Linked DNA regions of Homo sapiens: region 1 is linked to region 2. The links come from fine-mapping of genetic effects on gene expression. A gene starts in region 2. The other region holds a variant in brackets. All regions are shown on one strand. Distances are between the middles of the regions. Region 1 has its middle 29 kb from the start of TRIM52-AS1. Region 2 holds the start of TRIM52 (tripartite motif containing 52).

Region 1 (2,899 bases), 29 kb before region 2:
AACAGTAACTCCATTGTGTAAACGCCCATGAACATAAGATTACAGGACTTTTCCAGTTTAGACATACCATATTTTCTTTCAGACAATTCTTCAGTTTGTTTACATAGATCAGCGATACGATGATTCCATTTCTCTGAAAATCAAGCAAAAGTTGCTTCTCAATAATACGTCCCTATGTCAGAGCAGCACTAACGTATAATGACTGATTTCATATATTTTACATTCTAACAGTCCATATCATTTTACTGCTTTCAAGAAAAAATTTCCCCTTTTTGGTGGTTCTTAGAATGGTTTAATGGGAGACTATTAGAGAAGCTGAAAAGCAGGAGGGCAGAGAAGTTCAATCAAATTAAACACAATAACAGGGAGGTCACAATGAGGCGGTCTCCAGGGGTCTTTTAGCAAACTTCCTAAAACATGTCTCAGCTGTGTGAAATAAGACTTTACAGCAGCCGGGTGCAGTGGTGCAGGCCTGTAATCCCAGCACTTTGGCAGCAGAGGCAGGCGGATCACTTTGAGCTCAGGGCAACATAGCCAAAAGCCCCCTCCCTAGCCCCACCCCCACCCCGTCCCTACCAAAAATACAAAACAGCAGGGCATGGTGGCGGGCGCCTGTAGTCCCAGCTACTCAGGAGGCTGAGGCAGGAGAATCACCTGAACCCAGGAGGCAGACATTGCAGTGAGCCAAGATCACGCCACTGCCAGCCTGGATGACAGAGCAAGACTCCACCTCAAAAAAAAACAAAAACAAAAACACAAGGTTAAGAGGGACCCCCGACCTTACAGATACAAGTTTAAGAGGGACCTCTAAGCAAAAAATGCCAACCCTTTTTCTCCCAATCACTGAAACACCAGGAGGGTGTAACAGTTTTGCAGCCTAGCTGTAGCAGGCTGATGCCCCCCAGATGCCCATATCCTAATCCCGGGAACTGGTGAACATGACCTTATATGGCAAAAGGGGCTTTGCAGATATAATGAAGTTAAGGGTCTTTGGCTTTTGGGGTTGATGTACTCACTCGGATCCTTGTAAGAGCAGAGCAGGTGATGGAGAGGGTGGGAGGTGTAGTGACAGAAGCAGGAAACTCCAGTCATTCAAGACGGGCAGCACAAGCTGAGGAGTGCAGGCCACCTCTACGGCCAGGAAACAGATTCTCCCGCAGAGCCTCAGAAGCCACCAACCCTGCTCCCACCTTGACTCAGAAGGACTTACTGTAGAATTCTGGCCTTCAGACTTGTAAGGGAATACATTTTGGTTGTTTTAAGTCACTAAGTGTGTGGTAATTTGTTGCAGCAGCCACAGGAAACTAGTATTGTAGTGAAGCCTCAAAACCCCCCTGAAGGGGCTGGGCTCAGTGGCTCATGCCTGTAATCCCAGCACTTTGGGAGGCCGAGGTGGGTGGATCACTTGAGGTCAGGAGTTCGAGACCAGCCCAGCCAACATGGTGAAATGCCATCTATACAAAAAATACAAAAACTAGCCGGGCATGGTGGCACATGCCTGTAATCTCAGCTA[C/T]TCAGGAGGCTGAGACAGGAGAATTGTTTGAACCCAGGGGGGCGGAGGTTGCAGTGAACTGAGATTCCACCACTGCACTCCAGCCTGGGTGACAGAGCGACGCTCCATCTCGAAAACAAAACAAAACAAAAAAACCCCACCTGAAGGTTTCCAGTTCTGCCAGCAGTCTCCCACCCAACCCCCAGAAGCAGACATTCCATTGCTGTGGGCCATGGACAGGCAGAAGGAAGCACCTCCTCATGGCAGAGGCCTACCCAGGAGAAACCCAAGGGAAGGCACTGCTGGGCTGGCCCCTCTCTGCCAAGGCCATATTCTTTTTTTTTTTTGAGGCCAGTTTCACTCTGTCTCCCAGACTGGAGTGCAGGGGCACAATCTCGGCTCACTTCGACCTCTGCCTCCCCAGTTCAAGTGATTCTCCTGCCTCAGTCTCCTGAGTAGCTGGGATTACAGGAGTGTAGCATGCCTAGCTAATTTTTGTATTTCTAGTAGAGATGTGGTTTTGCCATGTTGCCCAGGCTGGACTCGAACTCCTTGCCTCAAGTAGTCCACCTGTCTCAGCCCCGCAAAGTGCTGGTATTACAGGAGTGAGCCACTGCACCCAGCATTTGCCAAGACCTTTGATGGCAGGCTTTTTCCAGGTGATCAGTCCTTGTCTGGTCTGGCTCTGCCCCACTCTCCTTCTCACCTAGTTGGAATCCCTAGCTACTTTTCAGTAGAGGAGAGTGTGTACCCCAATCCCAGCTTGGTTCAGATCTGCATTTAACTCATGGAACCTGGCTGCTCCCCAGGTCCTGAAGGAAAAAACGGTCTCTCTGTGCGTATGATAAAGGATGGGCCTGTCCCCAGGACCCTGTGAGAGGGAAGCCCAATGTCCCACCAGGTTGGCAGGGCTGGGGAAGGGAAAGTGTTATGGCAGCCCCAAGAAAAAAAAGAGGCAGCAGAGGGAGCAGGACAGCGCTCACATGGAACTCATGCCACTGCCTGAATGAGGGGAGGGAGGAGTGCACGCCAGTGACGTCAGGGGGCAGAGAGGCGCAGTTCCAGGGCGGCTTTCCCCCTCACTTCCTGCCATGTTACTCTGATCGCCTCCAGGTGAGCCTGCCCACTTTGTGCCCAGGGGCCTGTAGAAAACCACAGCTCCCCATGGTTATGGCCCCAGGAGTGGGGCAGAGCAGGGAGGAGTCCTGGACAGAGGAGAGGCAGGGGCAGGAGGGAGTGGGCCTCAAACTCCAGGAGGGGGCCCTTCTCATGGGTCCTGCTTTCTGGCTTCTCCTTCCTTACACCTGGGCTGATCACTTGGGGAAGAACTGAGACAAAGTTTCTCACCCTCAGGCCCAAAGGGTTTAATTACTGGGCCCTTAGGGAGGTGTGAGCCCCCTGAAAGGA
Region 2 (2,899 bases):
TCCCCCTCCCACTGTAAGATCTCTCAGCCCGCACTTTGGGAGGCCGAGGTGGGCGGATCACGAGGTCAGGAAATCGAGACCATCCTGGCTAACAGGGTGAAACCCCGTTTCTACTAAAAATACAAAAAAAAAAAAATTAGCCGGGCGTGGTGGCGGGCGCCTGTAGTCCCAGCTACTCGGGAGGCTGAGGCAGGAGAGTGGCGTGAACCTGGGAGGCGGAGCTTGCAGTGAGCCGAGATCGCGCCACTGCACTGCATCCTGGGCAACAGCCAGACTCCATCTCAAAAAAAAAAAAAAAAAAAAAAACCTCTCAGCCCTGGATCAGGTCCCCTCTCCAGGAAAGGTGACAGAGTGGAGTCTAAATGACACTGCCCTAGGGCCCCGCTGGGGTGGAAAACAGACCCAGACAGCGCCCCCAGCCCTCCCTCCCCAGGGAGGAGTGAAGGGCATAACAGACAGCGGAGGACACCGGGACAGGAAGGAGGGGCCAGCCGCTCTCAAACTAAGTCTAAACCACGGCGGTGAGGAAGTGTGGTCCCAAATCCAGCCCCCTCCCGGCCGAGCTCACAGAGCTCAGGGCTGGAACTCGGAACCCTGGCCCGACGCAGGCGGCAGCACCGAAGGGAACTTGAGCCCCGGCCCCCTCAGGGGACCCACGACCGGGGCGCAGCTTTGCTGGCAGACGCCGCAATACTGCGCAGCCGCGGCCCCGCAAGCAGAAACAGGGCTGGGTCTGAGGCCTACGTGGAGCTGGGGCCCGACGGCTCACGGAAGGCAGCGGGGGGCACTGGGCGCCCCGGATCCGAGCCTCCCGGGCGGCAGGCCCTCCCAGCTGTGCGGCGCCCGGATCCCCACAAAGGCACCCCAAGCGCGGACGGCGGGACGGGCGACAGCACCAGGGTGGTGTCCCAGGCTTCCCCACCGCCGCGGACCAACTCGGCCCCGGCCCGGGCGGGGCTTCCGGAGAGATTTATCCCCCTTCCCTCTAACCTTCCTGGGGCTCCGGCTCAGGCTGGACAACGGCTCGGAGACCCAGTCCCCCTCAAGTGTTGACCCCCCCACCATCTAGAACCAGCCAACCCACCAAACCACCTCTCCCAAGCCGGGCCTCTTCCCGGCGTCCGCCGCTGACCTGATCAGAGCCGCTCTGCCGGCCCGAGGGAGCTGAGAAGGGGCTTGGGAATGGGGTCTTGAGGAGGGGCTGGCCGGAATGTGCAGCACTAGCCCAGCTGGAGCGGGCGGCGCGGGCGCGCCTGTCCCCCAGCCCACCCAACTCCCGGCCCGCGCGGCCCCCGGCACACCATAGAGACGTGGTCCTCCGCCGGCCTAGAGCGTCTCTCCAGAGCGTGTGCAGGAGCGAGACGTCATTTTGCGTCGCCTCGGGCAGGGTAGCCAGCGGCTGCATCTGAGGCGGACGCCGCAGTGTAGGGCACACCCTGAGGGTAGCGAGAGACGTGACAGGACCGAGCAGCTGGGGGCTGCAGCCTGCTCTGTCCCCACCGATCCCAGAGAGAGGCTGTGAGTCTGGATCTGGGCGTTCGCACCCTGAGAGAGGGGGTCAAAGCTCCCCTGCGGCCCCGAGGAAGAAGAGCAAGGTTGAGGACAGCCTCGGGTCACCAGAGTAGTTTGGAGGCAGGCCTGCAGGCGCGTCCCCGCTCCTCAGCTCCAAGCTGACGTATCTACACCTGCCGGCGGGCATTAAGATGGCTGGTTATGCCACTACTCCCAGCCCCATGCAGACCCTTCAGGAGGAAGCGGTGTGTGCCATCTGCTTGGATTACTTCAAGGACCCCGTGTCCATCAGCTGTGGGCACAACTTCTGCCGAGGGTGTGTGACCCAGCTGTGGAGTAAGGAGGACGAGGAGGACCAGAACGAGGAGGAAGATGAATGGGAGGAGGAGGAGGACGAGGAAGCGGTGGGGGCCATGGATGGATGGGACGGCTCCATTCGAGAGGTGTTGTATCGGGGGAATGCTGACGAAGAGTTGTTCCAAGACCAAGATGACGATGAACTCTGGCTCGGTGACAGTGGTATAACTAATTGGGACAACGTAGACTATATGTGGGACGAGGAGGAAGAAGAAGAAGAGGAAGATCAGGACTATTACCTAGGAGGCTTGAGACCTGACCTGAGAATTGATGTCTACCGAGAAGAAGAAATACTGGAAGCATACGATGAGGACGAAGATGAAGAGCTGTATCCTGACATCCACCCGCCTCCTTCCTTGCCCCTTCCAGGGCAGTTCACCTGCCCCCAGTGCCGAAAGAGCTTTACACGTCGCAGCTTTCGTCCCAACTTGCAGCTGGCCAACATGGTCCAGATAATTCGCCAGATGTGCCCCACTCCTTATCGGGGAAACCGGAGTAATGATCAGGGCATGTGCTTTAAACACCAGGAAGCCCTGAAACTCTTCTGTGAGGTGGACAAAGAGGCCATCTGTGTGGTGTGCCGAGAATCCAGGAGCCACAAACAGCACAGCGTGCTGCCTTTGGAGGAGGTGGTGCAGGAGTACCAGGTGAGAGAAATGAGGGAATGTGGGGGGATGAAGGGAGTGGAAAGGTAACTAGGAGAGCTGAGGAATGAGTAGCATTCCTTTCCCACCTCCTCAGGTACTTAGTTGCTAAACTTCTCTTTATTTGATGAGGGAGACACGGTGGAGAGAGATGGTCATATGGGTAAAAAAGGAGACACAAAACCATGAAGATTGGGGCAGATTGGCTTCCCCAGAGGAAGCTGAACAGATAATATGACGGTCACTGGAAGCGGACCACTACTGCTAATACTGGCAGTCTACCTAAGTGTAAGGGACGTGAGTAACAGATACCCAGTACTTCATTTCTCCCTAATGTGAGTCCTTGACCAATTCCCTGGGACAGGTACAGATAGGAATAGAAAGCC

The links. PIP is the estimated chance that this variant, and not a neighbour inherited with it, causes the effect. A credible set is the group of variants that fine-mapping cannot tell apart.
Region 1: its variant is the best candidate, but not a certain one, in a credible set for the expression of TRIM52 in monocytes after Pam3CSK4 (Quach 2016, PIP 0.77).

What each region holds. Positions count from the first base shown.
Region 1 is chr5:181,288,907-181,291,805 of GRCh38, reverse strand. No RefSeq gene overlaps it. Among named protein-coding and RNA genes, the nearest start is that of TRIM52-AS1, 29 kb to the right of the region's middle. The variant C/T (reference allele first, on the strand shown) is at 1,514.
Region 2 is chr5:181,259,618-181,262,516 of GRCh38, reverse strand. TRIM52 (tripartite motif containing 52) reads left to right here and starts at 1,374. Exons shown (of 2, transcript NM_001346048.2): 1 at 1,374-2,516. The coding sequence starts at 1,704. TRIM52-AS1 (TRIM52 antisense RNA 1) reads right to left here and starts at 1,305. Exons shown (of 3, transcript NR_102762.1): 1 at 1,133-1,305. RefSeq lists silencers at 744-993, 1,104-1,253 and enhancers at 1,394-1,443, 1,624-1,673.